Linked DNA regions of Homo sapiens. The main gene of each other region encodes a partner of the protein of the gene in region 3 in a complex. Each region holds a gene or a part of one and is shown on either strand. Other genes may lie near its edges.

The links.
Region 1: the proteins of INTS2 (region 3) and INTS1 are in contact, whole or in part, in a cryo-EM structure (PDB 8RC4), measured with the Homo sapiens proteins. Residues at the interface, in NP_065799.2 of Homo sapiens: Pro40, Leu54, Lys69, Leu72, Arg73, Leu75, Ser76, Gly77, Val78, Glu79, Val81, Asn82, Val85, Gly125, Thr127, Leu128, Glu131, His132, Glu166, Val172, Tyr173, Glu176, Arg322, Gln325, Gln326, Arg329, Gly400, Lys402, Thr769, Met772; in NP_001073922.2 of Homo sapiens: Gly561, Ile562, Ala563, Trp564, Asp565, Lys566, Gly567, Ser982, His1055, Met1056, Thr1058, Pro1060, Glu1095, Arg1096, Thr1098, Ile1099, His1102, Leu1107, Arg1225, Ser1250, Phe1251, Gly1252, Ile1253, Tyr1285, His1288, Glu1291, Val1292, Gln1293, Glu1295, Arg1296.
Region 2: the proteins of INTS2 (region 3) and INTS6 are in contact, whole or in part, in a cryo-EM structure (PDB 8RBZ), measured with the Homo sapiens proteins. Residues at the interface, in NP_065799.2 of Homo sapiens: Ile855, Asp856, Pro857, Leu858, His895, Arg923, Glu925, Leu926, Lys927, Ala929, Leu930, Ala932, Ala933, Gln934, Ser936, Ala937, Gln940, Ile941, Glu944, Asn1010, Lys1013, Leu1014, Phe1017, Gln1018, Gly1019, Tyr1020, Pro1021, Ile1046, Ala1047, Gln1048; in NP_036273.1 of Homo sapiens: Ile484, Val486, Arg487, Ser488, Arg489, Phe527, Gln528, Val529, Ala530, Leu531, Leu532, Asn533, Phe541, Arg542, Asn543, Ala544, Tyr545, Ile547, Arg549, Leu552, Leu553, Leu556, Met559, Arg560, Asn562, Leu563, Leu564, Lys565.

Annotation. Positions count from the first base shown.
Region 1 is NC_000007.14:1,501,373-1,509,230, reverse strand, and holds the start of INTS1 (integrator complex subunit 1), read left to right. Parts: upstream 1-4,841; 5' UTR 4,842-4,908; intron 4,909-5,229; 5' UTR 5,230-5,270; coding exon 5,271-5,328; intron 5,329-6,039; coding exon 6,040-6,330; intron 6,331-7,858. UniProt on the Homo sapiens protein: Component of the integrator complex, a multiprotein complex that terminates RNA polymerase II (Pol II) transcription in the promoter-proximal region of genes.
Region 2 is NC_000013.11:51,361,060-51,366,040, forward strand, and holds the end of INTS6 (integrator complex subunit 6), read right to left. Parts: intron 4,787-4,981; coding exon 4,693-4,786; 3' UTR 3,224-4,692; coding exon of another isoform or gene 3,180-3,223; 3' UTR 939-3,179; coding exon of another isoform or gene 751-938; 3' UTR 518-750; downstream 1-517. Other genes in the region: SERPINE3 (serpin E3 isoform 2 precursor), read left to right, coding at 219-305, 751-938. UniProt on the Homo sapiens protein: Component of the integrator complex, a multiprotein complex that terminates RNA polymerase II (Pol II) transcription in the promoter-proximal region of genes.
Region 3 is NC_000017.11:61,924,983-61,932,933, forward strand, and holds the start of INTS2 (integrator complex subunit 2), read right to left. Parts: upstream 3,001-7,951; 5' UTR 2,959-3,000; coding exon of another isoform or gene 2,953-2,958; 5' UTR 2,672-2,952; intron 1,681-2,671; coding exon of another isoform or gene 1,663-1,680; coding exon 1,370-1,662; intron 118-1,369; coding exon 1-117. UniProt on the Homo sapiens protein: Component of the integrator complex, a multiprotein complex that terminates RNA polymerase II (Pol II) transcription in the promoter-proximal region of genes.

The sequences.
Region 1 (7,858 bases), on a different chromosome or scaffold from region 3:
AGTGCAATGGTGCGATCTTGGCTCGCTGCAGCCTCCATCTCTCAGGTTCAAGTGATTCTCGTGCCTCAGCCTCCGGAGTAGCTGGGACTACAGGCACCTGCCACCACGCCCGGCTATTTTTTTGTATTTTTAGTAGAGATGGGGTTTCACTGTGTTATCCAGGATGGTCTCGATCTCCTGACCTCGTGATCCGCCCGCCTCAGCCTCCCAAAGTGCTGGGATTACAGGTGTGAGCCACTGCGCCCGGCCTTGGATAATTTTTTTCTATTTTTAGTAAAGGCAAGGTTTCGCCATGTTGGCCAGGCTGGTCTCGAACTCCTGACCTCAAGCAATCCGCCCGCCTCAACCTCCCCAAGTGCTGGGATGACAGGCGTGAGCCACCGCACAGGCCTAATGAAGGTAAAGATCTTGAGATGAGATCATCCTTGATCTGGGTGGGCCCTAAATCCCTTAACAGATGTCCTCACGAGGCACAGAGACACAGAGAGAAGACGGCCACATGGAGTCAGAGGCAGAGGCTGGAGGGATGTGGCCACGAGCCGAGGACCCCTGGAGTCCCCAGGAGCTGGTCGAGGTAGGCAGCGTCCTCCCCTAGAGCCCTCCGAGGGAGTCAGCCCTGCCCACACTTTGACTTCAGACTTCTGGGCTCCAGAACTGCAAGAGAGGACATTTCTGTGGCTTTAAGCCACCGAGTCTGTGGTGCTTTGTTAAGAGCTGCTGTGGGAAACAACCACAGGTGTTCATTTTACTGTTCGGGTGATAAGCAGAGTCTTTGGAGAATTCTGAGCAGGGGAGGAACATTTGATTATATCTTTTTGTTTTTTTGTTTTTTTTGAGATGGAATCTCGCTCTGTTGGCCAGACTGGAGTGCAGTGGTACGATCTTGGCTCACTGCCACCTCCACCTCCTGGGTTCAAGTGATTCTCCTGCCTCAGCCTCCCAAGTAGCTGGGACTAAAGGCACCCGCCACCACGCCTGGCTAATTTTTGTATTTTTAGTAGACATGGGGTTTACTATGTTGGCCAAGCTGGTCTCAAACTCCTGATCTCAGGTGATCCGCCTGCCTCAGCCTCCCAAAGTGCTGGGATTAAAAGCCACGGCACCCGGCCTAAAAATTAAATTTCTAATAATTTTTTTTTTTTTGAGACAGAGTCTCACTCTTGTCGCCCAGGCTGGAGGGCAATGGCATGATCTTGGTTCACTGCAACCTCCGCCTCCCACGTTCAAGTGATTCTCCTGCCTCAGCCTCCCAAGTAGCTGGATTACAGGTGTCTGCTACCATGCCCGGCTAATTTTTGTATTTTTGTAGAGACCGGGTTCCACCATGTTGGGCAGGCTGGTCTTGAACTCCTGACCTCAGGTGATCCACCCGCCTCGGCTTCCCAAAGTGCTGGGATTACAGGCGTGAGCCATCGCGCCTGGCCATAAAAAATATTTTCAAAAAGTGAGCAAACAATTTGAACAGACACCAATAATGCAGATACACGGATGACAAAAAAAGATGAGAAAACGCTCATCATTACTCATCAGGGAGACGCCGATGAAGAGCACAGGGCAGACCCTGCACACCCCCCCAGGATGACGGAACGCCTGTGGTCCTGCCCGGGCCATCAGTGGAGAAGCCATCCTTGGAATCTGGAATCCATCTGGCGGGTGCTACTCAGCAGCTGACAGAAGCCACCGATGCCTGCAACGCTGGGGTAAGTCTCAGAATAATGATGCCAGGCCGGGCGCGGTGGCTCACGCCTGTAATCCCAGCACTTTGGGAAGCCGAGGCGGGAGGATCACGAGGTCAGGAGATCAAGACCGTTGTGGCTAACACGGTGAAATCCCGCCTCTACTAAAAATACAAAAAAAAAAAAAAATTAGCCGGGCGTGGTGGCCAGCGCCTGTAGTCCCAGCTACTCGGGAGGCTGAGGCAGGAGAATGGCGTGAACCCAGGAGGCAGAGGTTGCAGTGAACGGAGATCGCGCCACTGCACTCCAGCCTGGGTGACAGAACGAGATTCCATCTCAAAAAAAAAAAAAGAATAATGACGCCGAGCAGCTGGCCAGGGAGCGTGCACTGTGTGCTTTCATTCACACAGACTCCAGAAGAGCAAACAGCGCCTCTCCAGGGACAGAAAGTGGCGCCCTGGCGGCCTGGGGACAAGTCAGGGGTGGTTTGGGAATGTTCGTTACAGGGTTGAAAGGGATGGGGGATGGGGCCACAGGTACGTGTGAATGTCAACACGCATCAGTGTGCACCCTTTACACCCTTTACACACCTGCAGTTTATCAGACGTCAATCATAACTCAAAAAAGCTGTTTTCAAAAAGAGGCGGGGAGAGGGAGGAGGAAGGCAAAGAGGTAGAGGAGGGGGAGGAAGAGGAAGAGGGGAAGGAGACGGAGGAGAAAGAGAAGAGGGAGGAGGAGGTGGTCAAGGTTGACTCCTGAGTTTTTAGAGAACGAGGAAGACGAGGAGCAGGAGGAGAGAGAAGGGGGAAGAGGTGGTCAAGGTTGACAGGAGGAGGAGGAGGAGGAGGAGGAGGAGGGGGAGGAGGGGAGGAGGGGGAGGAGGAGAAGAAGGGGAACGAAGGGGAGGGGGGAGGGGGAGGAGGGGGAGGGGAAGGAGGGGAGGGGGAGGGGGAGGAGGAGAGGAGGGGGGAGGGGGAGGAGGGGGAGAAGAAGGAAGGGGAGGAGGGGGAGGAGGAGGGGGAGGGGGAGGGGGAGGGGGAGGAGGAGGTAGTTGTTCTCAAGGTCGACCCTGAGGTTCTGGCCTGGGCCCGGGTGAGGGCATTTGCCGAAGGCACAGGCCCCGCATGCAGGGGCGGTGATGCTGGTCAGAGGATGAGGAGAGGCAGGTGGCGGGGCAGAGGAAGCTCTGTGCAGGGTGCTCCCATTCAGGTGACAGGAGGAGGAAGCATTACCCCATCGGATCTCCCCTCCCCTTAGAGAGTTACCCTGAGGGACAGATTGAGAAACTGTAGAGGGATGAAGCCGCACAGCCCCCGCCTGGCGTCCGGCAGGGATCCGCGCCTGACCGGCCTCTCCTCCCATGGGCACCACGGACGTCTCCTTCCGGACTCGCTGCCCACACAGCGCAGGGTGCAGGGCCCTGGAGCCCTTGGGGTCCTGCGGGGACCCAGCTGGTGCCCACAGGAGTGGAAAGAGACCGTGGCGGGTCACACAGCAGTTCTCAGGCTGCAGCCTGGGGCCATGAGCCTCACTGAGGCCACAGTCAAATGGCCACACCCAACTTCAGGGGCACAGGGAGACCAGCTCTGCCTTGCGGTCCCTGGATGAGGAGATGGGACACACCGGGCAGGCGGTGCTCAGGACTCCCTCGGTGGCGGGGCAGCGTTCGAGTCAGTGCCCTGCTGGGAACAGATCTCCAAGATGTGGTTAAGTGGCAAAAGCCAGGTGCAGAAAAGAGGAGCCGTGCGCTACCTGCAGGGTGACAAGGCAGAGGGAGGCACACGGGTGGCTGCCTGAACGCACACGGAAAAGCCGGGAACACAGGCACAAATCAGAACACAGGCTGACTCCAGGGGAGGGGACCAGCTGCTCAGGGGTCAGGGGAGACCTTCGACCCTTTGACTGGATGATTCCCCCACCTTTTATTTTTATTTTTTTTTAGACAGGGTCTCGCTCTGTCGGCCGGCTGCAGCGTAGTGGCACCATCATAGCTTACTGCAGCCTTGACCTCCCAAGCTGAAGAGATCCTCCTACCTCAGCCTCCTCAGTAGCTGGGACCGTAGGCATGCACCACCATGCCTGGCTAATTTATTCTTGATTTTTGTTTGTAGAGATAGGGTCTCACTATGTTGCCCAGGCTGGTCTCAGACTCCCACTTTGGCCTCCCAAAGGGCTGGGATTAGAGGTTCATGCCACCATGCCCAGCTAATTTTTATTTTTTTGTAGAGATGGGGGTCTTGCTATGTTGCTCAGGCTGGTCTCGAACTCAACCGATCCTCCTGCCTTGGTCTCCCAAAGTGCTGAGATTACAGGCATGAGCATCACACCTGGCAACTGTATGATCTTTTGTGTCTTTTGAGTTTTGTTCCCATCAGTGTTTCCATTAAAAAAAAAAAAAAAAAGGCGTGGGGGCGGGGCGGGCGCAGTAATTCCAGCACTTTGGGAGGCCAAGGCGGGCGGACCACCTGAGGTCAGGAGTTCGAGACCAGCCTGGCCAACATGGTGAAACCCCGTCTCTACTAAAAACACAAAAAAATTAGCCAGACATGGTGGCGGGCGCCTGTAATCCCAGCTACTCGGGAGACTGAGGCAGGAGAATCGCTTGAACCTGGGAGGTGGAGGTTGCAATAAGCCGAGGTCGCGCCACTGCATTCCAGCCTGGGCGACAGAGCGAGACTCCGTGCCAAAAAAAAAAAGAAAAAAGAAAAGGGTGAACTTTGTGGAACACGAGTTCTATCTCAATAAAGCTATTATTATTATTATTATTATTATTTGAGACAGGGTCTCTCCCCGGGAGCCCCCCGGGCTGCGCCCCCTCGCCAGTGCCTGCGCCCCGGCCGCCCCCGCTCTCCGGGACGTGCAGAACCTGCCACTTGACTCATCCGCGGATCCCTGACGCCACTCCTCCCCGCCGTGCGTCCTGGAGTGCGTCCCTTCGCAACGCCAGCACCACCTGTGAATGGAGAGGCCAGCGCCTGCCCCGCGCCGCCGACCCACCTGGACCGGACCACATGCGCGCGGCGCCGGCCAGCCCGCCTCCCGCCGCCATGGGGCGCTGCAGGCATCAGGCCGGCGCCGCGGGCCTCTCGCGCCTCCTTCTGGGCCCGCTTCCCGCCGCACTGTTTTCCTTCCGGTTGTTCCGGAAGTCGGGTCCTCGAGGGCGGTGAGATCGGTTTCCGATTCCGGGGTGGCCGGGTGGCGGCGGCGGCGCTCCGGTCGCGATGGGCCAGAGGTAAGTGAGCCGCGGCCTGGGCGCTTCCTCATTGCCGGGCGAGCGCCTGGTTCTCCCGGCTACCGCTCCCGGCCTCTGGGCCGTCCCTTCTGGTTCTGCCGCCTCCAGCCCGGCGTCCGCGTCGCCTGCTGCCGCCCGACTGAGCCGCTCCCGGGCGGCTGGGAGGCGGGGTCCCTGCAGCTCCTGCAGCATCGCCCCGCCGGGCGGGCGCGGGACCACTGTCCCCGGGTCCCAGGCCCAAGCCCCGTGCGGCAAGGGAGCGAATGAGCGAGCGAACGAGCGAATGAGTGAAGGAATGACCGCACGCTGGCTCCTCCGCAGGTGACGCCGCAGCCGCCGGGAGCCGCGAGGGACGGGGCAGGATGAACCGGGCCAAGCCCACCACGGTGCGCCGGCCCAGCGCCGCGGCCAAACCCTCAGGTGCGTCTCCCTCCTCGCTCTGCAGCCCGGGGGTCTTTGGGGGTCTTTGGGGGTCTTTGGGGATCTCAGCTGCCGCGGATCCTGCGTTGGGCTTGGTTGTTCCGCAGCCGCGGCTGTTTCCAGGAATTCGGTCTGGAAACACTGCTCTCGGTCCTCAGCGGCTCTGAGAGTCCCTGGGAGGCTTGGGACAGTGGCGACTTCCTTCGGGACCCCGGTGATCTCGTTTCAGGCTGAGCTGCAAGGCGGCCGACAGTAGCGGAAGGTCTCCCCAGCCAGGAGGCGGGAGGCAGCACAGTGTAGCGTAGCACGGGGTCTGCGGCTGAACTGTCGGCTCAGATCCTCCGGACTTTGCCACTCGCCTGCTGTGTGACGCTGGGCACGTCGCTTAACCTCTCTGTGTCCCTTTCTCTCTTGTAAAGTTAGAGTAATAGCACCTATTGCGGAAACTCGGGGCGGGGGTTACTAAGCACACTAATTTGGATAGACCAGAGATGGCCTGGTTTGTGGTTAGCGCTACGTGACTGTCCACCATCACCTGTGCGTATCCTGCTGGTCCCAGCTCTGCTGTAGGCTGCTGAGTGAGCTCTGGCTTCTTCCTTGCCTCCTCTGACCCTTGTTTAATCCCCTCTGACATAACAGGAGGTTAGAGTCAGTCTTTTTCCATCTTGGGTGTTGCAAATGTGCCCGGTTTTCTCTCTCCTTTCTCTGCAGGGCACCCTCCCCCAGGAGACTTCATTGCTCTGGGCTCAAAGGGTCAGGCCAATGAATCGAAAACGGCGTCCACCCTGCTGAAGCCAGCCCCTTCCGGCCTGCCTTCTGAGCGCAAGCGGGATGCGGCGGCCGCGTTGTCCAGTGCCTCGGCCCTCACCGGTCTCACCAAACGCCCCAAACTCTCCTCCACACCCCCTCTGAGTGCCCTGGGGCGCCTGGCTGAGGCTGCAGTGGCAGAAAAACGAGCCATTTCTCCGTCGATTAAAGAGCCATCTGTGGTGCCAATTGAAGGTAATGAGTCTGTGGACATCCCCCGAGAACACCCCTCAGCTCATGCCGTCCATCAGGTGTTCAGGGAAGGCCCCCTCCAGGCCTAGTGCTGCCCGTATGGCCGAGGTCCTTTGGGAGAGCGGATGTTTGTGGCTTGTTCTTGGAAGTGCTTCTCACGTAGATGCCCTTATCCCGTGTGTGCATCTGCGTCCTGCACTGCCAGTGGCTGCCCTTTGAGAACCGGGTCACTCCCTTATTGAGTTGTTTGTCTCATGTGTCTGTTGGACGCCCCCTTTGTGACGGGCACTGTCTGAGCCCTGGGGGTAAACCGGGCGTGACGACACCCCAGGTGTCTGTTCTCAAGGTTGCCCATCCTGGTGCGTTCCTCTCTCAACCTGAGCGGAGGCGATGTGTACTTGGTTCCTCCTTCCCTCCTGGTTACCAACAGAGAAGAGTTGATCCCCTCCCTGTTTTCAGTTGAAAAGCAGCAGAACAGTAAGGACATCAACGGGGGAATGTAAGCTTCACCACTGTCCCGTTCTCGCAGAAATGCCTTTAACTGTGTGCCTAGAATCGCCCCTGCCCCTCTGCGCCATTTTCCCAACGACCATTTCTCAAGGCTCCGTGACTCCCTGGGAGTCGCTCTGGCAGCTATCGCACCAGCCCCAGCAAGCCTCATGGTCTGCAGTGTTTTGTTTCTGTGGGAGCATCTCTTTTGGGTAATTTCTTTGTAGGAGTCAAAAAGAACAAGTGTCCTGATGACTTTGGTAGTGAGGTGTCTGTTCAAGCCGCGCCACCTCTGGTTACTGAGTTTTGTGCCAGACAGGACCCAGGGGACTTGTGGGCTGTGGCCTTGCCCTCAGGGAGGGACCAGGCTGCTGCAGTGCAAGCCTGTGAGTGAGTCCCCGACGGCCCTGGAAGGGAGGAGGCCTGGCAGGGAGTTGCAGTATGGGCTTGGGCCTGGAAGCACAGGCGATGAAACCGGGGCAGGCAGGAAAGGGAGATGCCAAGCAGAGAATGGACTGTGCCCAGGGAATGGAGGCCTGGCCTGGCCTGGGCAGCACACGCTCATGAGAGCTGAGGCTGGGCGCTGTGGGCAGTGTTTGTGCTGGACTCAGTTGGCATCAGGGAGCCCTGGGGGCAAACGGCCCAGGATGGCACAGCTGGGGGACTGCTTTAGGAGGTCGAGCCTCAGACCTCCCATGAGGCGTGTCCCTGGGCAGCTGGTGCCGGTGGGGATTGAAGACAGAGACCACAGGCCTCATCCTGGCCCGGGCTCTCGGCCGCCGGCGGCTCGGTGCTTTATTTATCTTTAGCACTACCTCCTGTAGAAAGGAGGTTTTGAAGATGAGAGGAGACGTGGTTATGAAAAGCGTATTCTGAGTGGTAGATCACTTTATAGTATTATTCTCAGCAAAACAGAGAGATGGCTGCATCCAGCCATTTGTGGTAAATGTCCCAGGCTGTCCCTCCATGCTGGCAGCCCACTTGTCCCCCAGCTTGTCTCGGCATCAGGAAATTTATTCCAAGTCTCTGTCCCGGGCGCAGT
Region 2 (4,981 bases), on a different chromosome or scaffold from region 3:
ATTAAAGTTTGGTAACATATTGAGTCTTAAGAATTTTCCAAACAGCTACCTGAGCCTCCAGTAAAAACAAAAACAGAATTTTCCACTCTTTCCCTAGCTACACAGTAAGCAGCATTGGATACTATAAATTTTGTAAGTACATTTTTAAAGAATGTGTTCTAAATGTGTTAGAAAAATGTTAATGAGCAACTCACATTTTTATCATTTTCTGTGGTTAGGCCAAGATGGCTTTTATGTTTCTGAAGCAATCCACAAGGCCAAGATTGAAGTTTTGGAGGAAGGCACCAAGGCATCTGGAGCCACAGGTATGTTCAGAGAATACCCAGTCACACTGCTTACCCATATCTACCTTTCTGAAATTTACCTAGTTGAATCTTCACACTTCTGAATCTTTCCATAACCCCCAAGTTCAGGTGTGGTGTAGTATTTTTTAAAAAGGAACACTAAAGAAAACAAAAAGTTTTTGAAAAATGACGGGGAAGAAGAGATATCCATCCCATAAAAATAATTCTGAAAGTTACCTTCAATAAGGAATTTATTCCATGGAATGTGTTGAAAACAGGAGACAGGATTGGCTAAATGGCATCTTTTCTCTTTAATTTTCCCATCTGCACCCCCATCACAACAGTAAACAATCAAATGCCATTAGGATGCTTTGATTTCTTAAAAAATTAACTTACTTCATAACCAATAGTTATTTTCTTAAAAATGCACAGAAAATGCAATGGAATTTTTCTTTCTTTCCTGCAGCTCTGTTGTTATTGAAAAGGTCTCGGATTCCTATTTTTAAAGCAGATCGGCCATTCATCTATTTCCTGAGAGAACCTAACACAGGTATTACAGTATTTTTTGACAGGATTCAGATAATTTATCAGTGTCTCTCTAGCAACAAGGGCTCATTTGTCCACTATCCCCTCAAAAATAAGCATTCTTTCTAGCTGTTTTTATGGTGCTTCAGAAGCTACCCAGTTGCTATCTTCTATCCTAAGAAAGGGGACTATTTCGTAAGTACAAAGGAAACTTATCCTCCATGTTTTTTACCTTCTCATTCTCTCAGCTCATATATAGTTAATGTAGATTTTTTTTTTTAATGCTATAGGTTTCTACTTCTGAAGACACTTGGAAAAATCATGAAAGTAAAATAAATTATAAATCTTGCCCTTTTTTCCCTTTGTCCCCTAGCTTTCTTATCATTTTAGAGTTTTTTCAGGTCACTAGAGTACACCAGAGTAGTCCTCTTGTGATCCTAGTATTCTAATGAATGCACCTGGATTTCTATACTGTTCTGTTGATCTTTCTCAAAAATCAAATGTTTGCCCTAGTACTTTTAAGTCCTACTACATAACCTTATGGTAATCCAAAGATGGTGTGGTACCGGCAAAGCCTCAGTACATCAGAAGGACACACAAATATTCTTAGGCTTCGACAATATTGAACAAAGTCTTTAGATTATTTCTCTTAATGTTCTTCCTCCCCCACTCACAATTACTTAGCCTAGGAAGGAAAAGAGATTCTCAGTTAAGAGTTGTTGGCAAGTCTAAACAGTGTATTAAAAAGAAATAGGATAGAACAAGACTAATAAAATCAAGCAAAGGTGGATCTACTTTAACTAAACATCAGGCATTACTTTTATTTATGGAGAAAAATGTCAAAAGTTAGAATGAAAATTATGCATAGTTTTACATAAATTGTTAAGGAAATACTGTCAACATCATTTTATCTGAGAATCATTTGCATCCTGCTGTACCTTGTGCTAGAAATCAAAGGAACATTTTTGTGACGAGAAAGATATAAACCATTCACTAGAAAATAATCTATTTGGGATTATTTGGAGAGAAAAAGTCCATCAACAGAGTATGTCTTCCTAGTATTTCACCATGATCATCCCAACCACATAACGATTAGATGAAAATATCACTTATCACCCAGAACAGGCGGCAGAGAGCCTTCTCTTAGAAAGGACACGTCAAAAAAATGAAAGATGAGAAAAAGGACAGGTTCTACTCCCTAAGGAAACAAAGAGACAGGACTACATTTGAACAGAAAGGTCATTGCCAAAAGCCAATAGCCAATAAAGGTTGATAGGTAAAAGAGAGATTCTGATTTTGGAATTCAAGTGCATAAAAATGATGTAAAATCCTTAAACAAGGAAAAGACACACCACTATTTCAATGGTAGGAGTTTTCAGAACTGCCTCAGTAATCAGAATGAAAATATAAGGATAATCCAAAACCAGTTCCACAATCCACTGGAATTCTAATAGTCCTTGTGACTTTACCTCTATCTGGGAGGCATTAGCCTACATCACACAACACAGTGGCTGCTCTTCTGGTGATGGTTATGGAAGAGTTTAGAAATGAGTCTCAGCCTTCATTATTTCCAACTGACAAATCTTACTAAGAGCAACTAATGAATCAATCAGCAAATGAGAAACATGGGAGACATTAAAAAAAAAGATTTGAAAACCTCAAGATTAAACTTTCCAAGAATATCATTTGTCGAGCCTTAAGTCATTCAGTGACATAAAGGGCCTAAAAGACATGATGTTTCCCCTAGATGTATTTCCCTTCCCCTTTGACAATAATTCTACAACAAGTATTCTAATTTAACTAATATACCCATTTTTTTTTTAAATGAAAAAAGCCTGAGGGAGATGAGATATTAACCTTTAGTTCTGATAGGTTTCAAACCCTCCTGACCAGGTTTTAGGATGAGGTGAGAACAGTGGCAGAGAGATAAAGGACAAAAAGAAGAGATGAACAAAACTGCTACTTCTCACCTCCCTCCAGGGTTCATTCAGAAAAATGTATTAAAGGTCATGAGCAATCTGTGAAACAGAAAATAAAACTTTCTGATAAGGAAAGCTGCTCAATATTGGGATGGGCTGAATCTCTTTCCTAGATACTCTTGTTAAGTATGAATTTTTATCTGAATGACTTCTAATTCCTCCTAGTAATTCCAGAATCTAAATATATATAATTTAGGAACAGACAATATATTCTGGATTTTGTGTAACTCTCAATGAATTTAGCAATGTGACTACAGGCAATTACCTTAACAATTCCATCTATTAAATGTTATCTTGCATTACTTAAAAGTATTTGTATAGAAGTAAACAAAGCTTAAAGAACTGCATATGAAAATACTATATAATATTAAATTCTTCTTTTTCTTGACAGGGTTTGTCTTCAGTATTGGGAGAGTTTCAAATCCCCTAGACTAAATGCATGTTCTCCACTTTCATCAATGCTTTTCTTCATAAAGTTATAATTTCATTTTGCTATACCCTTGAAATTTAAAAAAATGTCTGATAAAGTGTAAAAAGCTAAGGGTATGTGATTTTCAATATTATAAACCTAAAAATACTTCAGTTTTTAAATGTTATAAGTTTATTTTGCCTACTCTTAATCCAAATCTATTTTGACCTTCTTTTCTACTGCTTACCCCCCAAACCACTAAAAGGCACAGCAGTGATCATGAATGGTGAGTGAGTCAGGCCATAAGATTGCTTCCTCAGTACGGATACTCTAGGCCATGTTGAATTGAGGGTGGAGAATGAATAGCGTGGTTTTCCTTATCCTGTGAAACTCAGGGGGGATGCAAAATGAGCAAAGTCATCTTAAAGGTGTTTCCTTTCCATTTAGCTTATAAATAAAACAGAGTTTAAGTGTGAGAACAGCAGAGCAGAACAAGGAGGCCTCCAATTTGTTGTGGGCTTTTGCAAGCATGGCATGAAGCTGCTAAAGGCTAGATATTTCAGAGCATGTACTGTACTCCAAACCTACCACTCCCTAACAGCTTCAGCTTCGTGCCATCCACAATCCTAGTGATAAAGGAAAAGGTGTTGAAGTAAGGAAACCAATAATATCCAAAGTTGTTTGCTTTTTAAATAGCTTTTAAAGTATCTGTCTATCTGCCCCATACAAAGTCATTCCCATAATCTAGGCAGAAATGGGAGTATGTTGGCATGGCCAACAAAAACTACGAACATATAGTAAAAAGGCAATGCAGATTATGTAACATGTAATTACAGTTAGGCTTAACAAACATGAACTTCAAGTGGTGTATTTTTCCAATGCTAAAAAGCAAGGCCTTTAAAATTCCATTATCTTAGGATGTTTTTAAATGATTACTTTAAATGTGATTATTTCCTAAACCACACAAGAGTAAAATAGAGCATTTATTGATGGAATAACAAAAGTGCTTTTCTTAAATATTCTTCAAAATACATTTGTACAACTTACAATAATATATCCAAAATAACTGTATATACAAAACATTACCTAGTTTTAATGTATGTGCTTTTTTCCCCAAAAATTACAAAGTAACTTCTTTTTTTTTTGGCAAAGTTCAACCTTAACAGAGGTGACAATTTTAAAGGTTGGTTTAAGAAAATAGAACCTGAGGGAAATTGACACGCAAGAGTCAATGACAAGCAAGAGATTTGGAGGAATATTTTTAGTTTGTTAAATTAAAAATGTTTTTTAGAGTGATACTTTTCACATTACAAAAATAAACCAAAATGAAGAAAAGGTCACTGTAAAATGATGGAAAAAGGATCTGTAGATTTGCTTTTAGTATTTCAAATAGCCAACAATGCATGTCAGAAAATGAATGCAAGATCACAACAGTCTTGTATTTACTTTGTATTTGAAGAAGATAGTGAAATAAGTGGCCACATTCTATTTTCTTTTAATTGCTATTAATATGGTTGATCTGATTGGCTCTTCGATGAATTTCATCCAAGAAGTTCTCCAGTTGTTCTATTAGCATTCGTTTTTTAAACCTGTATGAAAAAATAAATAGTACTCTCAATTACTTTTTAATGAATAGTATATATCAGTATAATTTTTTTAAGAAAGGAGAGAAAATTTTGGGAAGATTTTTCAAAGTGAAATGAAAATAGAAAAATCAATACTACGACAATATAAAATATGTTGAAAGATTAGCAAATTATTATCCTAGTACAGTATTATAGTTT
Region 3 (7,951 bases):
TCACTAAGCACAAGACGCAATCGACGAGGTGAATCACTGTGTTCAAACTCTAACGTCAGTCCATGCTGAAGCTGTGATACCAGGATGCTCTCTCCACTGCCTCCTCCAAGTTTATGCCTAATGAAGTACAAAACATGTAACAATTATGAAAACACTGATATGGAAATAATTGCATAAAAATTATCTTTTATTGAAATAAGCTATAAAAGGATGTATAAAGTGTTCTAAAATGTTCTGTTACTTCTGAAATGCTATTTAGTTTGCCTGTGTATTTCAGGGATTCACATCCTACGTATAATAAATACTCCACCACATAGGCCAGGCACAGTGGCTCACGCCGGTAATCCCAGTACTTTGGGAGGCTGAGGCAGGTGGATCACAAGGTTGGGAGTTCGAGACCAGCCTGGCCAATATGGTGAAACCTCGTCTCTACTAATAATACAAAAAAGCCGGGCATGGTGGCGCGTGCCTGTAGTCCCATCTACTCGGGAGACTGAGGCAGAAGAATCACTTGAACCCAGGAGGTGGAGGTTGCAGTGAGCCGAGATCACGCCACCGCACTCCAGCCTGGGCAACAGGGCAAGACTCGGTCTAAAAAAAAATAAAAATAAAAATAAATAAATAAATACTCTACCACAACTGACAATTAACACTCACTTCCACTGATGGTGGCTTGCTACTAGATTCACAATGGGCAGGGAAGGACATAGCACCTGCCCAGAATCTTTGGGAATATCTAAGCTTTAAAAGCCTCCCAAGAGGCTGGGCCCAGTGGCTCACACTTGTAATCCCAGCACTTTGGGAGGCCAAGGCAGGTGGATCACCTGAGGCCAGGAGTTGGAGACCAGCCTGGCCAACATGATGAAACCCCATCTCTACTAAAAATACAAAAAATTAGCCGGGCATGGTGGCAGGTGCCTGTAATCCCAGCTACTCGGGAGGCTGAGGCAGGAGGATCGCTTGAACCTGGGAGGCTGAGGTTGCAGTGAGCCAAGATCACGCCATTGCACTCCAGCCTGGGCAACAAGAGCGAAACTCTGTCTCAAAAAAGAAAAAAAAAAGCCTCCCAAGTGATTCCAATAAATCCCTCTAATCTAGGGGAAGTTACCCTACCTACTTCCCACTGAAAGTAATTGGCCTAATGAGTTTAGCCCACATACAACAGCACATTGCCATATTTCTCTAGATAACATTTTATAACATGGAAGTCAAAAGATTCTGGAACTGTAACTATATACAGAAAAGACCTAAGTAAAATGCTCTCCAGAATTTAGATTCTCATTCTCTCTTTTCTGGAGAGCTCTAAAAAATATCTGATTCCCTGTTCTTTGTCAAATCCAAATCCACATATAATATAACATAACATTACCTAAGCTGCTGTTCTTTGCTGGCATCTTGTTCTAAAGCATGAAAGTCCACGGACAACAATGCAACAATGGAGTTGACAGCTTCCACTCCAGAAAGAAGGCGAAGGATGAGTTTCTTATCCTGAGCCCAGCTTTGGCTCTGGTCAGCAGGTGCACAAAGTGCCATCCGTACCAAACAGGGCAGAAGAAGTCTTAATTCTGGATCACTTAAAGATGCCAGGCAAACAACATCCACCTTCTGCATTGCCTCAAAAGCAAAAGGGCTGACAAACTGAAGACTTGTACATTCAGTCATTATTACTGTTTGTTGATCCTAATGGTAAAAATACAAATGAAAGTAGGAGTTTAACTTTCACATGTATGAACACCCAACTTTCTAAAAACCCTGAAAAATGTGGTGTATCTTTAATAGGTCCCTATGTTGGCAATGTTCCTGGCACAATCAAGACAAGGCTTCTCTGTCTCCCTAGGTTTATACTGTCACCTGGGAAATGGGAAAGAAAACAGAGTATATTAATGTCTCTTCCAGCCTCAGGAATCTTCTGCTCTAATACTCATATTTTACAAAGAAGGAATATGAAGCCCAGAGAGATGAAGTAACACGCCCAAAATAGTATTACTAGTTAGAGGCACAATCCAAGGCTGAATCCTCATCTACTAAAATCCCAGTCCAAGACTTTCTCCACTATATCAGTCACATGAGCTCCACAAAATGTAAACAAAAGTGAATGGTCATAGTTAAGTGCTTTCTTTCATACCCCGATAGTTTCACATGCCTACCCCGATATACATCAAGAACTATTGGGCTTCTCTTTCTCACCCTCCATGAGTCGGTGGAAAAACTAGCAAATCACTGGGCAGAACCAATGCCAGATTCAAGGCTCTGGAGGCCACAACACTATCCTATGTCCCCTGTGTTACCGGGTAAAAAGCAGATGTGTGGGTGCTATGTGAGAAAGACGCGTCTCATTAGCGCACTTCTCTGTCTCCAGGAATCATCCAAGGCACAAAAAGTAAACAAAAAGGCAGTGAGCTGGCAGCCAAAGCAGTCCCCTCTCAAGGCCGACCGACTAGCAGCAGCGTGGGTAAAAGTCGTGGGTAAAAACTGCTTTGCTTTCAGGGAGGGGCTGCTCTTTTAACAGAGGGGCGGGCTGACTGGAGCAGAGGAGCCAAGACCTGCGTGCTCCTCCGTCTCGCCCCGGGCGCAACTAGAACCAATAAGTCCCTCAGGCTGAGCAAAGTCTGGCCAGGCTCCGACACGGACCTAGGAACGCGCTGAGGCCAGAGAAGCGGACGCTTCATACCTTAAGATCTACCCTCCAGCCTCACGGAACCGCACACGGACTCCGCGTCCTAGAGGCGGGACGCGGCAGAAATCGAGAGCGCGGTCCGATGTTGGGCCTAGGCGATATCCGGAACCCCAAACCCTAGTTGTGCCTCGAGTCGACTCGGACACCAAGAACTCAGACGCCGGGACCAACCGGGTTGTCGATACAAAGTGGGAAGGATGGGGGCACCACACAAAGGCAGAACCGGGACTGTAGGAACGGAAAAGCGGGAGACTTTTTCAACCTGCACCCAGCACCTTCATTCATCCCCAGCGTCTGACTCCCGTCGGCCACCGTACTGGTCTGAGAGGAAGGGTGGCTGCGAGAGGAAAGGCAGAGACGTCGGCGCCAATGCAACTGTGCGCGTGCGCGGCCCCGCCCCTTTCTCCACTTTATTTGCCCTGCCCTACTTGTTCGCCAAAAATTTAGAAATGTGATTCTGGTAGGCTCTGATTTCCAGAGCCTACCAGCTCCTTCCTTTTAGACAAGCAAGCCACTGAGCCCCTCAGAACTTAAATTTCATCATCACAGGATTGCCATGGCATTCAAATGGCATAACGTGTGTTAAAATCGTTCCCACTATTCTTTGACACTAGTGGTACCAAACTGTACTCTTTAAATCTTTGCCTGTGCCTTCCCAGAACCAAAATTCTAGAATCCCAGGATTTGTGGGAGAATTTTAAAAGTGATCTAACCCCAAACTTTCTTCCGCTCTTGACCTCACACCTCCGCTGTCAGAAGTTAAACACCTTCCTTTCAGGTTCTTAACTTGGGGGACCCATAGAACCTTAGAGAGGCAATGCACGGGGATTCAGGAATTCTCTGGAATCCGTTCAGAACTGAGTGCTCGGCACTTCTTCTGGGAAGAGGGTCCAAAACTTTCAACAACTTCTCAAAGGAAGTCTGATCACTCAGAAAAGAACCACTAGTCTATATATGAAGAACCGCTAGTCCATATGTCTTCATACTATTTATTGTTCCTAGTTCGATCAACGTTTATTTGGCAACTTCTATTTACCAGATATTGTGCTAGGAGCTGGAAATAAAAATATTTTACAAAGATATAGCACTTTATAACCTCTTTAAAAATAAAGTCAGAGCCGGGCGTGGTGTCTCATGCCTGTAATCCCAGCGCTTTGGGAAGCCGAGGCGGGCGGATCACCTGAGGTCAGGAGTTCGAGACCAGCCTGACGCAACATGACTAAACCCCAACTCTACAAAAAATATAAAAATTAGGCCGAGCACGATGGCTCATGCCTGTAATCCTAGCACTTTGGGAGGCCGAGGCAGGCAGATCACGAGGCCAGGAGTTCGAGACCAGCCTGACCAACATGGTGAAACTCCGCCTCTACTAAAAATGCAAAAATTAGCCAGGCGTGGTGGTGTGCGCCTGTAATCTCAGCTACTTGGGAGGCTGAGGCGGGAGCATTGCTTGAACCTGGGAGGCGGAGGTTGTGGTGAGCTGAGATCGTGCCATTGCACTCCAGCCTAGGCAATAAGAGCGAAACTCCGTCTCAAAAAAAAAAAAAAAAAAAAAAAATTACCCCAGCGTGGTGATGGAGCACCTGTAGTCCCAGCTACTTCGGAGGCTGAGACAGGAAAATCACTTGAACCTAGGAGGCAGATGTTTCAGTGAGCAGAGATCATGCCACCGCACTCCAGCCTGGGCAACAGAGCCAGACTCCATCTCAAAAATATATATATATATATGACTTTCAACATAGATCAGCAAAGGAAGAAAAGAATTGTGTGTTGCAATGCTTCTGAAAATTTTTTCCACCTGACCCACAATAATACATTTCACATTGTGACCCAGAAAAAACATATGTATATATCCACATACAAAAATAAGTGTAAGTGTATAAATTTATATGCTATATAAACATATAAATATATAACATATAAACCCACATTTACATGGAAACAAATATTTCGTATAATAACACACACACTACATGTTTCTACTTCTCTTTAAAAAACTGCTGGTCACTGCACACTAAAACTGATTTCACACTCTATTAATGGGTTGCACACTGTACTGTCCTAGCATTTTTAAGCTAATATTTGGGATTTATTTATTGAACACTTGCTAGGCACTGTAATAAATGCTTTATATATATTATCTGATTCAATCTTGTGACGTAGGTAATATTCGCCTTTTGCAATTGTGGAAACTGAGAGAGGGTAAGCAATTTCATCTCCATGGATGGTCATTTCACAGGAAAAGTGTGAAGGCAGTGCAAACATTGGTTTGAGGGACGAATGAGAGGAAGATGTGGGTATGAACTAAGTGATTTTAAAGATCCTTTCCAACTCTAATTATGATCCTCTGTTCACTAATGGAGAAACATCATGCAGATTCAGTATCTCCATCTTGATCTATGGAGAAACAGAAAAATCACTGAATGAGATGGCTGCAGTGTCACATAATGAGTGCTGACACTTCCTCCAAGTCCCCCTCTCCTTTTCTTCCAGTTCACCAACTTGACCTTGAGTTGCTCAAGCCAGAAACCTAAAAGTCATCCTAGACTCTAATCTCTCCCCCTTGTATTAATTTAGCAAAAATCTTTATAATCATTGAAACATTGTAATGTTTGCCAATAAAACTTTTTTTTTTTTGAGACAGAGTCTCGTTCTGTTGCCCAAGCTGGAGTGCAGTGGCACGATCTCGGCTCACTACAACCTCTGCCTCCCAAGCTGAAGCAATCCTCCCACCTCAGCCTCCTGAGTAGCTGGGACAATAGGTGTGCACCACCACACTTGGCTAATTTTTTTTTTTTTTTTTTTGAGACAGAGTCTCGCTGTGTCACCCAGGCTGGAGTGCAGTGGTGCGATCTTGGCTCACTGCAACCTCCGCCTCCCAGGGTCAAGCGATTCTCCTGCCTCAGCCTCCTGAGTAGGTGGGATTACAGGTGCCTGCCACCATGCCTGGCTAATTTTTTGTATTTTTAGTAGAGACAGGGTTTCACCATGTTGGCCAGGCTGGTCTCAAACTCCTGACCTCAGCTGATCCACCCACCTTGGCCTCCCAAAATGCTGGGATTTCAGGCATGAGTCCCTGTACCCAGCCTCTCTTTTTTTTTCCTTTTCGACACAAGTTCTCAAGAAAAGAGCGGCAGTGCAGTTGGGCGATCTTGGCTCACTACAACCTCAACCTCCTGGGCTCAGGTGATCCTCCCACTTCAGCCTCCCAAGTAACTGAGACTATGGTCATGCATCACCACACCTGGCTAATTTTTCTATTTTTTTGTAGAGACAGGGTTTCATTATGTGGCCAGGCTGGTCTTGAACTCCTGGACTCAAGCCATCTGTCCCCCCTCAGTCCACCAAAGTGCTAGGATTACAGGTGCAAGCCACTGCACCTGGCTTGACCAGCTTGCTTTTATTCTTCTACTTTATTTTTCAATCAGACTGGAGGAAGAGAGAAACACAAGTAATGAAAAAATGAGAAAAACAGAAAAACACATTAGAATATCTATTATGTTTCATGTATACTAGGTGCTTAATGTAGGTTGCAGAGTAATTGAGCTTCCAGCAGTTAGAAGACCTAACTATACAAAGGTGAGGACCAATGTCCTTCAGAAATAGTCATAGAATTCCAGAAGCACAAGGATCTCAGAAGACATCTAGCTCCATTTTGCTCAACATGATGCTCTTTATAGTGTGACTATTTTATCTTGTAAGATGTCTTTCAGGAGGGCACGATGGCTCATGCCTGTAATCCCAGCACTTTGGGAGGCCGAGGCGGGTGGATCACGAGGTCAGGAGTTCTAGACCAGCCTGGCCAATATGATGAAACCCTGTCTCTACTAAAAATACAAAAATTAGTTGGGTGTGGTGGTGTGCACCTGTAGTCCCAGCTGCTTGGGAGGCTGAGGCAGGAGAATCGCTTGAACCCGAGAGGTGGAGGTTGCATTGAGCCGAGATTGCGCCACTGCACTCTAGCCTGGGCAACAGAGTGAGACTCCATCTCAAAAAATATATATATTCTTTCATGTTTCAGCCTGTAAAGATCTTTGACTCTTTTACACTGGCTATCTGTTTTAGCTTAGCAGATCATATCTTCATTAATATTATGGATAAAACATTGAATAGAATTGGGTCCAGCCAAGACTTCTAGTTCAGCATTAGAGACATCCCTCCAGGTTGACATAGCTCCACCAATCAAGGCTCAAGTATGAGACTGTTTTATAAATCAGCCCAACTACTAAAACACTACCCTGCTTTGGGATAAAGTTGAATTTCTTTAGGATGGAACTAAAAAGACAGATTGATTGATTATATTTTTTTGAGACAGAGTCTCGCTCTGTCACCCTGGATGGAGTGCAGTGGCTCAATCTTGGCTCACTGCAACCTCCGCCTCCCAGGTTCAAGCAATTCTCCTGCCTCAACCTCCCAAGTAGCTGGGATTACAGGCACCTGCCACCATGCCCAACTAAATTTTTGTGTATTTTTAGGAGAGACGGGGTTTCACCATGTTGGCCGGGCTTGTGTCAGTCTCCTGACCTCAAGTGATCTGCACGGCTTGGCCTCCCAAAGTGCTGAGATTACAGGCGTGAGCCACTGTGCCAAGCCCTAAGACAGATTTTTTTTTTTTGAGGTGGAGTCTCAGTCTGTCGCCCAGGTTGGAGTGCAGTGGCACAATCTCAGCTCATTGCAACCTCTGCCTCTTGGGTTCAAGCGATTCTCCTGCCTCAGCCTCCTGCGTAACTGGGATTACAGGCACCCACCACCATGCCTGGCTAAATTTTTTGGGGTATTTTCAGTAGAGATGGGTTTTCACCATGTTGACCAGGCTGGTCTCAAACTCTTGACCTCAGGTGATTTGCCCACCTCAGCCTCCCAAAGTGCTGAGATTACAGGCTTGAGCCACTGCGCCCAACCCAAAAACAGATTTTTATGGTCTGACTTAAAACTCTAGCTTGGAGTCCTGCCGTATCCCACCATGGTGTCATTTTAGTCAGTTGGAACTGTTTATGTCTCAAATCCTTCTCAATATTCTTGGACCTTCTCATCACAGTTCCTCCTGTCTAGAATGCTTTTCATTCTCTTTTTTAATGCAAACTCCTAAGTGTCCTTTAAGTCTCACCTCCAGTGTTCCCTTGCTAAGAGACCTTTCCCTGACAAACCACCTACCCTTTAACTTATCAGGTATCCCTATTCTATGCTCTCAAGGCACCTTTTGCTTCTTTCAGCTATACTACTTAACACATTATATTGTAATTGTTAGAACTTCTCTGTCTCTCCCACTAAAAA